Homo sapiens: one gene and its partners. The protein of the gene in region 2 interacts with the protein of the main gene of each other region in a pairwise test. Each region holds a gene or a part of one and is shown on either strand. Other genes may lie near its edges.

Region 1 (3,982 bases), on a different chromosome or scaffold from region 2:
GGAAGCCAAGGACACTGCCGTCAAATTACTGATTCCTGGTTTAGCGGTTCCAGTGAGTCATGCACTCTCCTTGCTTCCGTTAACCGCCCCCCCCCCCACCCCAACACCTTTTGTCTGATTCGTCACATGTCCTTTGATCCCCTTTTTCCTCAATCTGTTTGAAATTTTACCTTCTATTCCAATTCATTTAGTGGTTCCCAAAGGGTACCCACGTTGAGACTTAAAAATGTGTCAGTCTAGATTTTTATTGCTCTTATATTCAGCCAGTCTATCGTCTCCAGGCACTAGAGAAGCACTTTAGTAACTTCTAGCTCCTTCTGAGTTTTCGCATGTCCCACATGTCTATATGAGTGTCTTCTGGAATTTTAATTCTAGGTCATCAATCCTTTTTCCAGAATCGTACTTCTCTGGACTTAAGAATACAGTTTCCTAATTTCCATGCTTAGTGATCCTTGTTGCATCCCACTTCTTCCAGGTTGTCTGGGTTGGCTTCTTCTTGGCTGAAAAACGTGACGTGTACTTTCACTGTACATGACAGTTCCATTCCAATCGCCTTGTACAGAAAGGGTGTTTGGCAGCTTGCATGTTGTAAGTTGCGTACTCCAAGTTCAGGGGAAGCTCAGGCTTCAGGTCCAGTCGGGGGAGGAGTGGAGCAGAAGTGGGGCTGGGGGGAACGTCCAGGTGGAAGGAAGGGAGGCTGGGAACAACGTGGGTGGCAGATAGTGGTCAATACGCAATGTCGGTGAGGAACACTGGGACCCCTTGCACGTAGGTGCCCTGGGGGGTTTGAATGACTTGTAAAACCGCTGAGTCACCCAGAGCCCTAAACCCGATGCAGGGATAGAGGGTCAAGACGGGTTGCCAGTCAACAGCCTGAGGCCCAGGAGCAGCGGGCGGCTCCTGAAACCCCAGCTCAGGTTGCGCCACGTCGGGGCCAGGGCCTTCCTGCACAGTTCCAGGCGGAGGACCTGTTTCAGAAAGGGAGAAGGCTGCGGTCTCCGTGATTTCCGGTTCCCCCTGGTGGCCTGGCTCTCCATGGTGGTCCAGTTGGATGTGCACGTCCGGTGCCATCAAGCCTTCTGCCCCCTGTCTCTGGCCAGCGTCCCCGCGGGGCCCAGCCCTTCTGCCACGGCCTCGCCCTGGCCGCCGGCTTCCTCCCCGGCGCCGGCCTCTCTCTGCAGGAGGGGGTGACTCTGGGCGAGCTGGGGGCTGCCGTCTGAAGGGTTTCACGTAAGCGATGGGTTTTGCGGGTTGGGCTGGCTGTGCGGGCCCATCTGCTTCCACGGAGCCTTCAGGGTCCGCAACACAGCAGCCTGGCTCTGGAGGAGGCCCACCTGAGGCTAAAAGAGAAGCGGAGCGTGAGCAGAGAGAGACAGAAGGAACTTCACCCGTCAAGCAGTTATAGGATACTTTTACAAATAAATACTCAGAGAAAAGAGGGATTTCTGAAGTTAAAATTGTGAGAGAAGAAACAAAACTCTCCACGGAAGTTGGAGAAAGAAGTTGAGAAGGTCTCCCACAGAACAAAGCAAAAACCTAAAATGATGGAAAGAAGGATGAAATATAAGAGAATTAGAGGTATGCTGTGGCTGAGACATTTCACCAGAAAATTTCAGAGTGCTGAGGAAAAAGAGAAGATTCTAACAGATTCTAGAGAGCGGGAGACAGAGAAAGGAAAAGTCACATGGAAAGGGCTAGGATTCCACATGTCTCAAAAGTCAGACATCTCAAAAGCAGCAGTTCAGTCTAGAACATAACAGAAAATGTCTTCGAAATTTCAAGGGAAATGAATTTCCCACCTAAAATTTCCTGTCCAACCGAAGTTTCGCTGAAGAATCTGGGAGGGGAGAATGAAGATGTTTCAGACAAGCAAGATGTTAAAGAATTTCCTTTCAGTGGATGCTTTATTGTTATGCATCTGTCAAACTAGACAAGATTAAAAGATTTAGGACACTCAGCGTATGAAGGGAAAAGTTTTGGAGAACAACGTGGCAACAGCCGGAAAATTCCAACTCCTCCGGGAAAGAACAAGGTGGAAGTACCGGTTTATCATAGATCAAGACGTAGCGTGAGGACTCGCTCTGCTACGGAGAAACAGTAATACAAAACTAAACAGAAGGAAACAGCGACAACAACAGCAAATCTCAGATTTGGGAAATGGGATTACGGTTCGGAAGAGGGAAAGGAATTTCCCAGATGATGTGGAACCCGGGAGCTGACTTCCAACAAGCAGCCCAGGTTGAGGCAGGCTAGGAGAAGGTGAAACAGAGAATGCTTGATTGAGTTTGAGTGTCAACCATTGGGGAAGAATTGGGGAACAGACGAAATTAAAAAGAGAGGAGTGGCAGGCGTTTGATGTACCTTGATTAGGGGCCATGGAGCGAAGTCGCTTCGAAGGCCTTGGTTCCTCCATGAGCAATCGGCGGGAGGGGCTGGGGAGAAAAACAAGAGAGCAAGAACGGATTTAGGAAGACAGAGGTGACAAGGCAGGGGGATGGCCGTGGCCTTTCTAGGGGAATGAGGATTCTGTCCCCAACTGCACCCACCCGAGATCCGTCCACGCCTCCGGGACCCCCAGACACACACCTGATCTTCCCACAGCTGGCTCCGGAGATCTGAAAATTAGGAGACTCTTCGACGAAGAGAGGCCCGAGGAGTCGGAGGTGTCCACAGGTTCACCGCTGTAGCTCTGAGGTAGTCCACCCGCAGCCAGGGAGTCTGGAGGGAGCACGCAGCAGGTTCTGGCTCCGAGCCCAGCAGAAAGCCGACTGCTGGAGGCCGAGCGCCGTCCCTCTTATATGGCAGCAAGGCAGTCGCGTAAGGGACAGGCGTCGTCAGAGGGGGGCCGGCTGGGGCGGGCCTGGCTGGGCTTGCGAGGCGCATTGGGCCAGTCCCCTGCCAGTCAAATGGGGGCCCTTCTGAGATGCCGCCATTTCTAGACGTCCGTGGTTGATTGATTAATCTAATCATCGAGGAAAAAAAATTGCATAATGACCTCTGAGTGTCAGCACAATGAGGTGTGGTGCCCTGAAAGCGGCTGACAGGAAGATGCGATTAGCTTAGATCTGAGCATGGTCAAGGAAAGCATCCAAAGCGGGGATATCTGGGCTGAAATCTGGAACATAACGTTTGAAATTAGTCATCCTGAACCGGGTTGGGAGAGGCAGGGAGGGAGGAAGGGGAGTGAAGAGAGTGTGCTGAGGCCCGGACTGGAAGGGAGCCCGGCACATTCTGGGAATGGACGGGAGGCCAAGTCCAGGCCCGGAGGTGGTGCGAGGTGGAGGCAGGGTCCGCGCAGGAGCTGGTCTTGTTCCAAGGCAGCGGAAAACCGTGGAACGGTGTCCGGCAGCGGGTTAACATTTCAGAAACGACCAGCCTGGCTGTGAAGGAGCGCCAACCCAGGGTCCGCAGAATAAGTCAGGAGAGGCAAGAAGGCTATTGCAGCCCTCGGGGTTGGGCGCAGGGTGCTGTTAGACTGAGACTCAGGGAGGTAGAGGAGGAGAAAGTTCCCTGGTGGGAGAGAAATTTCCAAGAGAAAGCGAGACCCAGTGTGGACAGCCCTTGAGGAAGAGACTGCGGCCTTGGTAGCCCGCCGGTTCATTCAGGCAGAGGTGGACCGAGAACCTGCTCTGAACGGGAAGTTGCGGAGCTTGGCTTGCGCACATCTGGTTGAAGGGGCTTTTGAACTGCCAAGTGAGGATGTCAAGTGGCCTTTTGTAAAAAGAGTCGAGCTCAGCGCGATGGCGACGGGGCTGGAGATGCGTGTGAGACCCACACCGCTGGCTTTTATTGCTGTGGGTGCACTCACGGGTGGAGGAAGACAGCGGGAAACACAGCAGGACGCTGGAGGGGATCCCACAGTGGGTTATTTGGTTGGTTTGCATCCTTGTGTCTTTTACAGAGACGGGTTCTCGCTCTGTAGCCCAGGCTGGAGTGCAGCGGTGCCATCTCGGCTCGCTGCGGCTACTTGGGGGGGGGGGGG
Region 2 (3,500 bases):
CAACTGTTTCTTCAAATGAAATCTTATGGAGGAAGTCAAATGTAAGAGAAGCTTCACTGACTGCAGTGGGATGGGGCTGGCAGCAACTCCATTCACAGGCATTCTGTTTCCCACCACGGCCCCTCATTAGATCCCTGGCCTCTCAAAAGAGTGTTAAGGCTCTAAAACTATACCAGGAAGTATATTTTTGCAAAACCAAATGGGCTCTAAGTAATTAGTTTTCAAAATTCTCCAGTGTATTGTTTTGGACTTATGTTTCAGACTGGTGATAAAATTTCAGCACCTCACAACACCATGACACGGCAGGGCAGAAGGAAACCCTCTGCCGGGAAGCAGATGACCTGGACGTCAGCCCCAGCTTTGCCATTAACTGGCTCCTCAAGCCAGGGCAAGTCAGTTTCTTCTGACACAAAATGAGGGGTTTAGATGAAATGGTCCATAAAGTCTCTGCCTATTTTAAAATACTGTAATTAATCAACATTTGAACATGTATACCTGTCATTTACAAATGTCCATGCCATTTGAACCAACTTTTGAATTTTGTTTTTATCACCTAGAAATGGGGACAAAAAGGTAAATTAATAGCAATAGAAAAATTCACAGGCAGCATCAAGTATTTATTAAAAACCTACCACGTGTTCAGCACCACTCAAATACACAGCAAAGAGCTTTTGCGTGGGAAACAAGGATGAATGATGTGGGTCCACATCCTACCCCTTCTTCCTCCTCATGACCTACGCTGAACCACCATGTATGGAAAACCTGGCTCCAAGGCTAAGTTTATTAGTCCATTTAAAAAATTCTGCCTCATTTTCCTGCCTCTCCCATCACTTGGCAACTGGATGACAGAGCCTGTTTATACATAAAAGGAAACAGCATTAGCAGCTGCAATGCTGAATTGACTGAGCAAGCCATGCCCTTGGTATTTCACACATCAAACTTTGTTTTCCGCTTTTGAGAAGCGTAATTTGAGTGTCATCAAATTATAAAGACTTGATTTCAGAATGAAAAAATTCTTCTGAAAACTTTCTTCTTACCTTTGAGTTGCTTTGCATATTTTAGTAGGAACTGGTATGGATGTTCTACCTGTAAATCAAACTTGATGGTCTGCAGTAAGATTCTCTCCAGAACCATTACTTCCTCCTAAAAATCAATCACAAATGTTAGGACAGTAATTACAATTGCAGGTCTCAAGCAGCATTACAAAAGTGAGCTTTCCTGTCTATTTATTCTCTCTTCAAGTTATATTTTAGCAACTGCCTTTCCTTCCTTTCTCTCCCACTCAGACTTTTAACATGCTCAGAGACACTGATAAATTCTGAAAAGATCTCAAACAGGAAGACAAAGCAGAGGTGTAATGTAAAAAAAAATACTGAAAACAAAAGATCCTTAAAAATATTATTATTTTCAATACATACATGAGTCTCCCTTTACAAAACAGATCTTTACGTTATTGATAATTTGACTAAATTGTAATTTCTTTCAAGACCTCAAATTTTAAAAATGCAATCTTTTAGGAATTTTCATTGAAAACATTTTAAGCAAGAAAGAGTTTATGATAGCCAGCCTCATGAAAACTCAGAGATAAATTGTACCAGTGTGTGTGTATGTGTGTGTATATATACTCATGTACACATATAGTGTATTACGTGCAAATGGGGGCAAATCAATTTTGTGTTTAAATCTTTCATTTATTTGAAATAAATCATCCCAACAACACTTACTGAATAAATGATCATTTCCAATTTTATTTAAAATGCTACCTAAATCACCTCCTAAACTACGTGTGTATGTCTGCCTACACACACACTATCTTTTCTGTTCACTGATCTGCCTGTCTACTCCTGGACCAGGATCAAAGGGATTTGGGTGGGATACAATAGCTCCAGTATTACTTCTCTTTTTCAAACAGTTTCTGGGTTCTGCATGTCCCCCTCACTCAAATTTTAGTAACCATTTTACTTAGTATCATTACAGAAAACATACATGCTATTAATATTCTCATTGGAAACTCAGAGGATTTATAGAATAATTAGGGAGAATGGAGATTTTTAACCATATTGAAGTTTCCTTCCAAAAATTTATTAATATCTTTTCAGTCCTTTAGTTGTTTTAAAGTCCTTTCCACCCCACTAACGAGGTTTCCACAAGGTTTAACCTTGGATATTTTACTGTTGCTATCGTTAATGGAATGTCCTCTTTGATGATACTCTCTAACTAATGTCTTGAACTCAGCCCCTGTACAGCCGACTGTACCTACTGCTTAAAGACAACATAAACCACAACCAAGACACTGTGTGCGGGGAGGACAATTTGAGAGAATTCCTTGTTTGGCATCAAAGACAGGGCGTTGTAGAGGACTGTAAATCTCATCAACAGGTGCAGAGACCCACAGGTCACTGGCTTTCATTTAGAAGCATGGTATTATTTTATAGGATACAGAGATGATTCTATAATTATTATTCCAAATTACATGGCAAGACTAAGGTTTTTCAATCTTAGTTTCCCAAGCATTTTCTCATGAAAGTTTTTTAAAATCTTAGAAACTTTCACACAGTGTAAAAAAAACTGGGCTGGACATGGTGGCTCATGCCTGTAATCCCAGCACTTTGGGAGGCCGAGGCGGGCAGATCACTTGAGGTCAGGAGTTCAAGACCAGCCTGGCCAACATGCTGAAACCCCACCTCTACCAAAAATATAAAAATTAGCCAATCATGGTGGCAGGCGCCTGTAGTCCCCTACTTGGGAAGCTGAGGCAGGAGAATCGCTCGAGCCTGGGCGGCAGAGGCTGCAGTGAGCTGAGACTGTGCCACTGCACTCCAGCCTGAGTAACAAGAGTGAGACTCCATCTCAAAAAACAAAACAAAACAATTTTTTTCTTTGAATGTCATTGTCACCACCTGCTTCCCAGAAGCTTCAACACTTCCTCTAAATTTAGAAACAATTCTTTTTACCAAGTGTACCAATTGGCTTGCAGGCTGTAGCCCACATACTGTTACAGGATAGCCCAGGGCCTGCCCTCCCTCTGTCTTCCAAATATTCAATTAATGGGGTCATTATAGGTCTTTGAGCAAACATCATTCCTCAGGAACGCCTTCCCTCAGCCCCTATTTATCCGGGGGACTTGCCTGGGTCCCTGGGTGGAATGCTATCACAGCACCTTAAATGACCTTTTACAGCGTACACCACAACTCATCATCAAATAGTTATATACTCATTTGATTAAAATTTATCCTGCCACTCAACTGCAGAGTCCATGAGAGCAGAGACCATGTCTGTTCTGCCTCGTGCCTCATGTCTAGTGCCCAACACAAAGGCTGAAACGAATATTACAGAGAAAAGCCACACAATTAAAATAAAGCTAATTAAGGCAAAAAATGTTCCATGGGACTCATGATCTTATTTTTCCTAAATACTTATACTGCCTCCACTAAAGAATTGCCCTCCTGTCTGCAGAGGAAAACATCTTCCCCAATGTCTTCACTGCTCCCAGCTCCAGG
Region 3 (4,227 bases), on a different chromosome or scaffold from region 2:
GGAAGCCAAGGACACTGCCGTCAAATTACTGATTCCTGGTTTAGCGGTTCCAGTGAGTCATGCACTCTCCTTGCTTCCGTTAACCGCCCCCCCCCCCACCCCAACACCTTTTGTCTGATTCGTCACATGTCCTTTGATCCCCTTTTTCCTCAATCTGTTTGAAATTTTACCTTCTATTCCAATTCATTTAGTGGTTCCCAAAGGGTACCCACGTTGAGACTTAAAAATGTGTCAGTCTAGATTTTTATTGCTCTTATATTCAGCCAGTCTATCGTCTCCAGGCACTAGAGAAGCACTTTAGTAACTTCTAGCTCCTTCTGAGTTTTCGCATGTCCCACATGTCTATATGAGTGTCTTCTGGAATTTTAATTCTAGGTCATCAATCCTTTTTCCAGAATCGTACTTCTCTGGACTTAAGAATACAGTTTCCTAATTTCCATGCTTAGTGATCCTTGTTGCATCCCACTTCTTCCAGGTTGTCTGGGTTGGCTTCTTCTTGGCTGAAAAACGTGACGTGTACTTTCACTGTACATGACAGTTCCATTCCAATCGCCTTGTACAGAAAGGGTGTTTGGCAGCTTGCATGTTGTAAGTTGCGTACTCCAAGTTCAGGGGAAGCTCAGGCTTCAGGTCCAGTCGGGGGAGGAGTGGAGCAGAAGTGGGGCTGGGGGGAACGTCCAGGTGGAAGGAAGGGAGGCTGGGAACAACGTGGGTGGCAGATAGTGGTCAATACGCAATGTCGGTGAGGAACACTGGGACCCCTTGCACGTAGGTGCCCTGGGGGGTTTGAATGACTTGTAAAACCGCTGAGTCACCCAGAGCCCTAAACCCGATGCAGGGATAGAGGGTCAAGACGGGTTGCCAGTCAACAGCCTGAGGCCCAGGAGCAGCGGGCGGCTCCTGAAACCCCAGCTCAGGTTGCGCCACGTCGGGGCCAGGGCCTTCCTGCACAGTTCCAGGCGGAGGACCTGTTTCAGAAAGGGAGAAGGCTGCGGTCTCCGTGATTTCCGGTTCCCCCTGGTGGCCTGGCTCTCCATGGTGGTCCAGTTGGATGTGCACGTCCGGTGCCATCAAGCCTTCTGCCCCCTGTCTCTGGCCAGCGTCCCCGCGGGGCCCAGCCCTTCTGCCACGGCCTCGCCCTGGCCGCCGGCTTCCTCCCCGGCGCCGGCCTCTCTCTGCAGGAGGGGGTGACTCTGGGCGAGCTGGGGGCTGCCGTCTGAAGGGTTTCACGTAAGCGATGGGTTTTGCGGGTTGGGCTGGCTGTGCGGGCCCATCTGCTTCCACGGAGCCTTCAGGGTCCGCAACACAGCAGCCTGGCTCTGGAGGAGGCCCACCTGAGGCTAAAAGAGAAGCGGAGCGTGAGCAGAGAGAGACAGAAGGAACTTCACCCGTCAAGCAGTTATAGGATACTTTTACAAATAAATACTCAGAGAAAAGAGGGATTTCTGAAGTTAAAATTGTGAGAGAAGAAACAAAACTCTCCACGGAAGTTGGAGAAAGAAGTTGAGAAGGTCTCCCACAGAACAAAGCAAAAACCTAAAATGATGGAAAGAAGGATGAAATATAAGAGAATTAGAGGTATGCTGTGGCTGAGACATTTCACCAGAAAATTTCAGAGTGCTGAGGAAAAAGAGAAGATTCTAACAGATTCTAGAGAGCGGGAGACAGAGAAAGGAAAAGTCACATGGAAAGGGCTAGGATTCCACATGTCTCAAAAGTCAGACATCTCAAAAGCAGCAGTTCAGTCTAGAACATAACAGAAAATGTCTTCGAAATTTCAAGGGAAATGAATTTCCCACCTAAAATTTCCTGTCCAACCGAAGTTTCGCTGAAGAATCTGGGAGGGGAGAATGAAGATGTTTCAGACAAGCAAGATGTTAAAGAATTTCCTTTCAGTGGATGCTTTATTGTTATGCATCTGTCAAACTAGACAAGATTAAAAGATTTAGGACACTCAGCGTATGAAGGGAAAAGTTTTGGAGAACAACGTGGCAACAGCCGGAAAATTCCAACTCCTCCGGGAAAGAACAAGGTGGAAGTACCGGTTTATCATAGATCAAGACGTAGCGTGAGGACTCGCTCTGCTACGGAGAAACAGTAATACAAAACTAAACAGAAGGAAACAGCGACAACAACAGCAAATCTCAGATTTGGGAAATGGGATTACGGTTCGGAAGAGGGAAAGGAATTTCCCAGATGATGTGGAACCCGGGAGCTGACTTCCAACAAGCAGCCCAGGTTGAGGCAGGCTAGGAGAAGGTGAAACAGAGAATGCTTGATTGAGTTTGAGTGTCAACCATTGGGGAAGAATTGGGGAACAGACGAAATTAAAAAGAGAGGAGTGGCAGGCGTTTGATGTACCTTGATTAGGGGCCATGGAGCGAAGTCGCTTCGAAGGCCTTGGTTCCTCCATGAGCAATCGGCGGGAGGGGCTGGGGAGAAAAACAAGAGAGCAAGAACGGATTTAGGAAGACAGAGGTGACAAGGCAGGGGGATGGCCGTGGCCTTTCTAGGGGAATGAGGATTCTGTCCCCAACTGCACCCACCCGAGATCCGTCCACGCCTCCGGGACCCCCAGACACACACCTGATCTTCCCACAGCTGGCTCCGGAGATCTGAAAATTAGGAGACTCTTCGACGAAGAGAGGCCCGAGGAGTCGGAGGTGTCCACAGGTTCACCGCTGTAGCTCTGAGGTAGTCCACCCGCAGCCAGGGAGTCTGGAGGGAGCACGCAGCAGGTTCTGGCTCCGAGCCCAGCAGAAAGCCGACTGCTGGAGGCCGAGCGCCGTCCCTCTTATATGGCAGCAAGGCAGTCGCGTAAGGGACAGGCGTCGTCAGAGGGGGGCCGGCTGGGGCGGGCCTGGCTGGGCTTGCGAGGCGCATTGGGCCAGTCCCCTGCCAGTCAAATGGGGGCCCTTCTGAGATGCCGCCATTTCTAGACGTCCGTGGTTGATTGATTAATCTAATCATCGAGGAAAAAAAATTGCATAATGACCTCTGAGTGTCAGCACAATGAGGTGTGGTGCCCTGAAAGCGGCTGACAGGAAGATGCGATTAGCTTAGATCTGAGCATGGTCAAGGAAAGCATCCAAAGCGGGGATATCTGGGCTGAAATCTGGAACATAACGTTTGAAATTAGTCATCCTGAACCGGGTTGGGAGAGGCAGGGAGGGAGGAAGGGGAGTGAAGAGAGTGTGCTGAGGCCCGGACTGGAAGGGAGCCCGGCACATTCTGGGAATGGACGGGAGGCCAAGTCCAGGCCCGGAGGTGGTGCGAGGTGGAGGCAGGGTCCGCGCAGGAGCTGGTCTTGTTCCAAGGCAGCGGAAAACCGTGGAACGGTGTCCGGCAGCGGGTTAACATTTCAGAAACGACCAGCCTGGCTGTGAAGGAGCGCCAACCCAGGGTCCGCAGAATAAGTCAGGAGAGGCAAGAAGGCTATTGCAGCCCTCGGGGTTGGGCGCAGGGTGCTGTTAGACTGAGACTCAGGGAGGTAGAGGAGGAGAAAGTTCCCTGGTGGGAGAGAAATTTCCAAGAGAAAGCGAGACCCAGTGTGGACAGCCCTTGAGGAAGAGACTGCGGCCTTGGTAGCCCGCCGGTTCATTCAGGCAGAGGTGGACCGAGAACCTGCTCTGAACGGGAAGTTGCGGAGCTTGGCTTGCGCACATCTGGTTGAAGGGGCTTTTGAACTGCCAAGTGAGGATGTCAAGTGGCCTTTTGTAAAAAGAGTCGAGCTCAGCGCGATGGCGACGGGGCTGGAGATGCGTGTGAGACCCACACCGCTGGCTTTTATTGCTGTGGGTGCACTCACGGGTGGAGGAAGACAGCGGGAAACACAGCAGGACGCTGGAGGGGATCCCACAGTGGGTTATTTGGTTGGTTTGCATCCTTGTGTCTTTTACAGAGACGGGTTCTCGCTCTGTAGCCCAGGCTGGAGTGCAGCGGTGCCATCTCGGCTCGCTGCGGCTACTTGGGGGGGGGGGGGGGGGGGGGCTGAGATAGGAGAATCAGTTCAAGTGATTCTCCTGTCTCGGCCTCCGGAGTAGCTGGACTACAGGTGAGCGCCACCACATCGGGATAATTTTCGGATTTTTTTGGAGAGACGAGGTTTCGCTATGTGCCCAGGCTTGTTTGGAAGGCCTGAGCTCAAGCCGTCCGTCCCGCTCAACCTCCCGAGTCGCTGGGACCCCAGGCGCAAGCCACCATGCCGGGCCAATTATTTTTTTGGGT
Region 4 (3,500 bases), on a different chromosome or scaffold from region 2:
TTCAGCATTCTAATCTAAGCAAGATCTTGGCTTACTGCAACCTTGACCTCCTGGTCTCAAGCACCCCTCCCACCTTAGCCTCCTAAGTAGCACACACCACCAAAACTGGCTAATTATTTTATGTTTTGTAGAGATGGGATCTCACTTTGTTGCCTAGGCTGGACTCAAACATCTGGGCTCAAGCAGTCCTCCTCTTGCCTTGGCCTCCCAACATCCTGTGATTACAGATATGAGCCACCATGCCCGACCCCCTACCCCCATTTATTTATTTGTTTGTTTGTTTGTTTGTTTGTTTTTTGAGATGGAATCTTGCTCTGTCGCCCAAACTGGAGTGCGGTGGCACACTCTCGGCTCATTGCAACCTCCACCTCCCAGGTTCAAGCGATTCTCTAGCCTCAGCTTCCCAAGTAGCTGGGACTACAGGCGTGCACCATCACACCCAGCTAATTTTTGTATTTTTAGTAGAGATGGGGTTTCAGCATGTTGACCAGTGTGGTCTTGAACTCCTGACCTCAAGTGATCCACCCACCTCGGTCTCCCAAAATGTTGGGATTACGTGCGTGAGCCACCACGCTCAGCCTCTACACCCATTTATTGTATTTGTATGGTAACAAATCATTGGTATTGTGTCTGTTATAAATCATACTAATAATAGTATGAAGTTTTTTCTACTAGTTTATAATTTATTACTGTACTTAATTATTTTGGTGCTTAAATTGTACCAGATTTGGCCAGTTGAGTATCCCCTACATCTGGCTCTTACGCGGGACAAAGTGTTTAACATAATTTCTGAGTGTGTTTTCTGTTCATTTAGAAGCAGTATTTTTATACTTTCTTATACTTCATTTTGATGAATGAAAAGGGCAAAGCATTAAACAAAATAATCCTGGTAGATCAATGAACTTTGTTTAAATAATTAATAGCACAAAGCAATCAAAGCATGTAGATATAGGTTCTCTCAGAGTAGTCCATTTTTAGGTCCATAGGATGAGGTCATTATTTTTATGTTCTTTGTGTCTCCCAGCTTCATTGCTCCAACCTCCTGGCTCTTAAAGGGCCAATTGATGTATGACATCATCCCCTCAAAATGGGCTGGAGACAGCAAAACAAAGTAATATTCTGTTCCTTCCCTTGGGAAGACTAAGTGTGCCTATGTGGTGTGCACATCTCATGAGGATGACTCTAGTGGCCATATAGAGTTCTATCTATAGAGTTAGAAGAATAACTCTAATCATCTTCATGAATTTTTTATAAGAATGATCTCAATAGAACTTGTCTTCATTAGGTTAGAAAAGGCAATAAATATTCTAAAAACTCATAATGACCTATTTACTTTTATAATTGAGAGGTTATATTTTATTCTATTCATACAACTCTTGTTTTTCTGATTCTTTTTTAAGGCATATTCCCTATATTCTTTTCTTCCCATGTTCTAATTGTCCTGTTTTCTTCAAATAGGTAATTTAATTTTATTTAAATAGGATCTCATTTTCTTGAAAATAATTCTGTATTTCTTTCCTAGCGCTACCTTGATGAAGCAGACAGAGATAAGGAGCGTTACATGAAGGAACTGGAACAGTATCAGAAAACAGAGGCCTACAAGGTCTTCAGTAGGAAAACCCAGGACCGTCAGAAAGGCAAATCTCATAGGCAAGGTATCAAAACCAGAACCAAATGTATTTGTAGTTTGTTGTGGGTGATGGAGTGTCATAAAGCCAACTGTTAAGAGTGGTAACTATAAAAGATGTGTTTCTGTTTTTTCTCCACTATCCAGTATTCACTTACAAGCATTATCTTGAAATTTTATTAAAATCACATTGCTCTCATTTAGAAATTTCAACTGGGTTTCCGTGTCTATTATCAATGATTTTGACTTGTCCTCCGAGACCCCTGTTAGTTGCCTGCCCTTCTTTTCCTGATTCCCAGTTTAGGCATTTCTCTGCCTGTAAGCAAGCCTATCTACAAAATTATATCAGTAACTTCCCTTTAACACTTCTAAGCCTTTCATGTGTCATTTTTGAAGCACCATCCACAACTAGCCTATTTTTCCTTAGCCATTGCATCTTCTCTATACTTGGGCATCTAGCCTGCTAAAATTATAGATGTTGTATAAGTAGTCTTTGGTTTGTGTCTTCTGTCCACTCTTCCACCCTTTTCTCCCTAAAGTTAAGAACTGTGTCTGCTGTTTCTCTTATGCCTAATTATGAATTCTGTAGGCATGGGGTTCCCTTACTTTTGTTGGCTGACCGATTAATAAAGCCTTAAGGAAAAATATCATATGTTATGAGAATCTACATATACAAGCAGGTTTTATAGTTTGGCAGAGTCGTATACTTGGGTTTTGTTATTGCTTTCTTTTTAAATGTAATGTTCTCTTATTCTTTTATATTTTTAGATGCAGCCCGGCAGGCCACTCATGATCATGAGGTAATTAGCCATCTGTCTACATATCATATATATGTATTTATAATAATGTTGCTTTTTGAAATGCTATTGGATTTTTTTTTTTTTAATGAATGGCAAAGTATTTCCTATCTCGTAATTCAGATTAAATGAGATACTTTAGCTTGGGGGTTCTTAGCATATGGCAGACACTTACGTTGTGTGTCTGTCATTGAACTACAGCCCCTAACCTCAATCCTTTCCTGTGATCTGAGAATTTTATTGGCTTTAAATGCCAAAGATGGCTGGAATTTGGAATGAAGTATAGAAATGAGGGCTAGCTGAAAGCTATAACATGACCATAGTTTATCATCACCAAATACTTAAATCTGACTCTCAGAAAAGTTGTTATTTAAAGAATCCAGCATTTGCTTAAAGCGAACTGTTCAACTACAATGTCGATAGAGCACAAGCGACAGTATCTCAGGTTTGTTTTTTGTTTTGTTTTGTTTTTTGTTTTTTTGAGATAGAGTCTCACTCTGTCGCCCAGGCTGGAGTGCAGTGGCACAATCTCAGCCCACTGCAACCTCCGCCTCCCGGGTTCAAGCAATTCTCCTGCCTCAGCCTCCCGAGTAGCTGGGACTACAGGCTCGTGCCATCATACCCGGCTAATTTTCTGTATTTTTAGTAGAGACAGGGTTTCATCATATGAGCCAGGATGGTCTCGATCTCCTGACCTCATGATCCACCCGCCTTGGCCTCCCAAAATGCTGGGATTACAGGCGTGAGCCACCACGCCCGGCCCAGTATCTCAGTTCTCACACCTCCTTTCCTATTCCCTCACTTCACTAGCACATGTTTGTGTACTGGCTTCTTTCCTCCCACTTGGTTCAGCCCCATTGTTAGGATTTAGGCCTGTGTTTCTGTGTGTGTATGGGATTTAGGTGTGTGTGTTGTTTCAAATTCTGTTTTCTCCTTCAAACTTTTCTTGTTTCCTCTAACTTCCTTTAACCCTCATGGCTCTCTATACTTGTGTTATGTGCTTAGCTGATCTGACCTAGGGGTTTTGAGGTAATTCAAGGGCTCACACTCTTTGGTTGTAATGTCTTTGTGGACAT

What was found. The genes of interacting proteins can lie anywhere in the genome.
Region 1: the proteins of CCNK (region 2) and PRR20D interact in a two-hybrid assay, tested with the Homo sapiens proteins (one large-scale study listed by BioGRID).
Region 3: the proteins of CCNK (region 2) and PRR20E interact in a two-hybrid assay, tested with the Homo sapiens proteins (one large-scale study listed by BioGRID).
Region 4: the proteins of CCNK (region 2) and HMG20A interact in a two-hybrid assay, tested with the Homo sapiens proteins (one large-scale study listed by BioGRID and IntAct).

Annotation. Positions count from the first base shown.
Region 1 is NC_000013.11:57,159,450-57,163,431, reverse strand, and holds the start of PRR20D (proline-rich protein 20D), read right to left. Parts: upstream 2,801-3,982; 5' UTR 2,587-2,800; intron 2,433-2,586; 5' UTR 2,414-2,432; coding exon 2,362-2,413; intron 1,341-2,361; coding exon 727-1,340; 3' UTR 1-726.
Region 2 is NC_000014.9:99,498,409-99,501,908, reverse strand, and holds part of CCNK (cyclin-K), read right to left. Parts: intron 1,720-3,500; exon of another isoform or gene 1,144-1,719; coding exon 1,038-1,143; exon of another isoform or gene 554-1,037; coding exon 496-553; exon of another isoform or gene 1-495. UniProt on the Homo sapiens protein: Regulatory subunit of cyclin-dependent kinases that mediates activation of target kinases.
Region 3 is NC_000013.11:57,165,770-57,169,996, reverse strand, and holds the start of PRR20E (proline-rich protein 20E), read right to left. Parts: upstream 2,801-4,227; 5' UTR 2,587-2,800; intron 2,433-2,586; 5' UTR 2,414-2,432; coding exon 2,362-2,413; intron 1,341-2,361; coding exon 727-1,340; 3' UTR 1-726.
Region 4 is NC_000015.10:77,469,388-77,472,887, forward strand, and holds part of HMG20A (high mobility group protein 20A), read left to right. Parts: intron 1-1,522; coding exon 1,523-1,655; intron 1,656-2,395; coding exon 2,396-2,427; intron 2,428-3,500. UniProt on the Homo sapiens protein: Plays a role in neuronal differentiation as chromatin-associated protein. Acts as inhibitor of HMG20B. Overcomes the repressive effects of the neuronal silencer REST and induces the activation of neuronal-specific genes.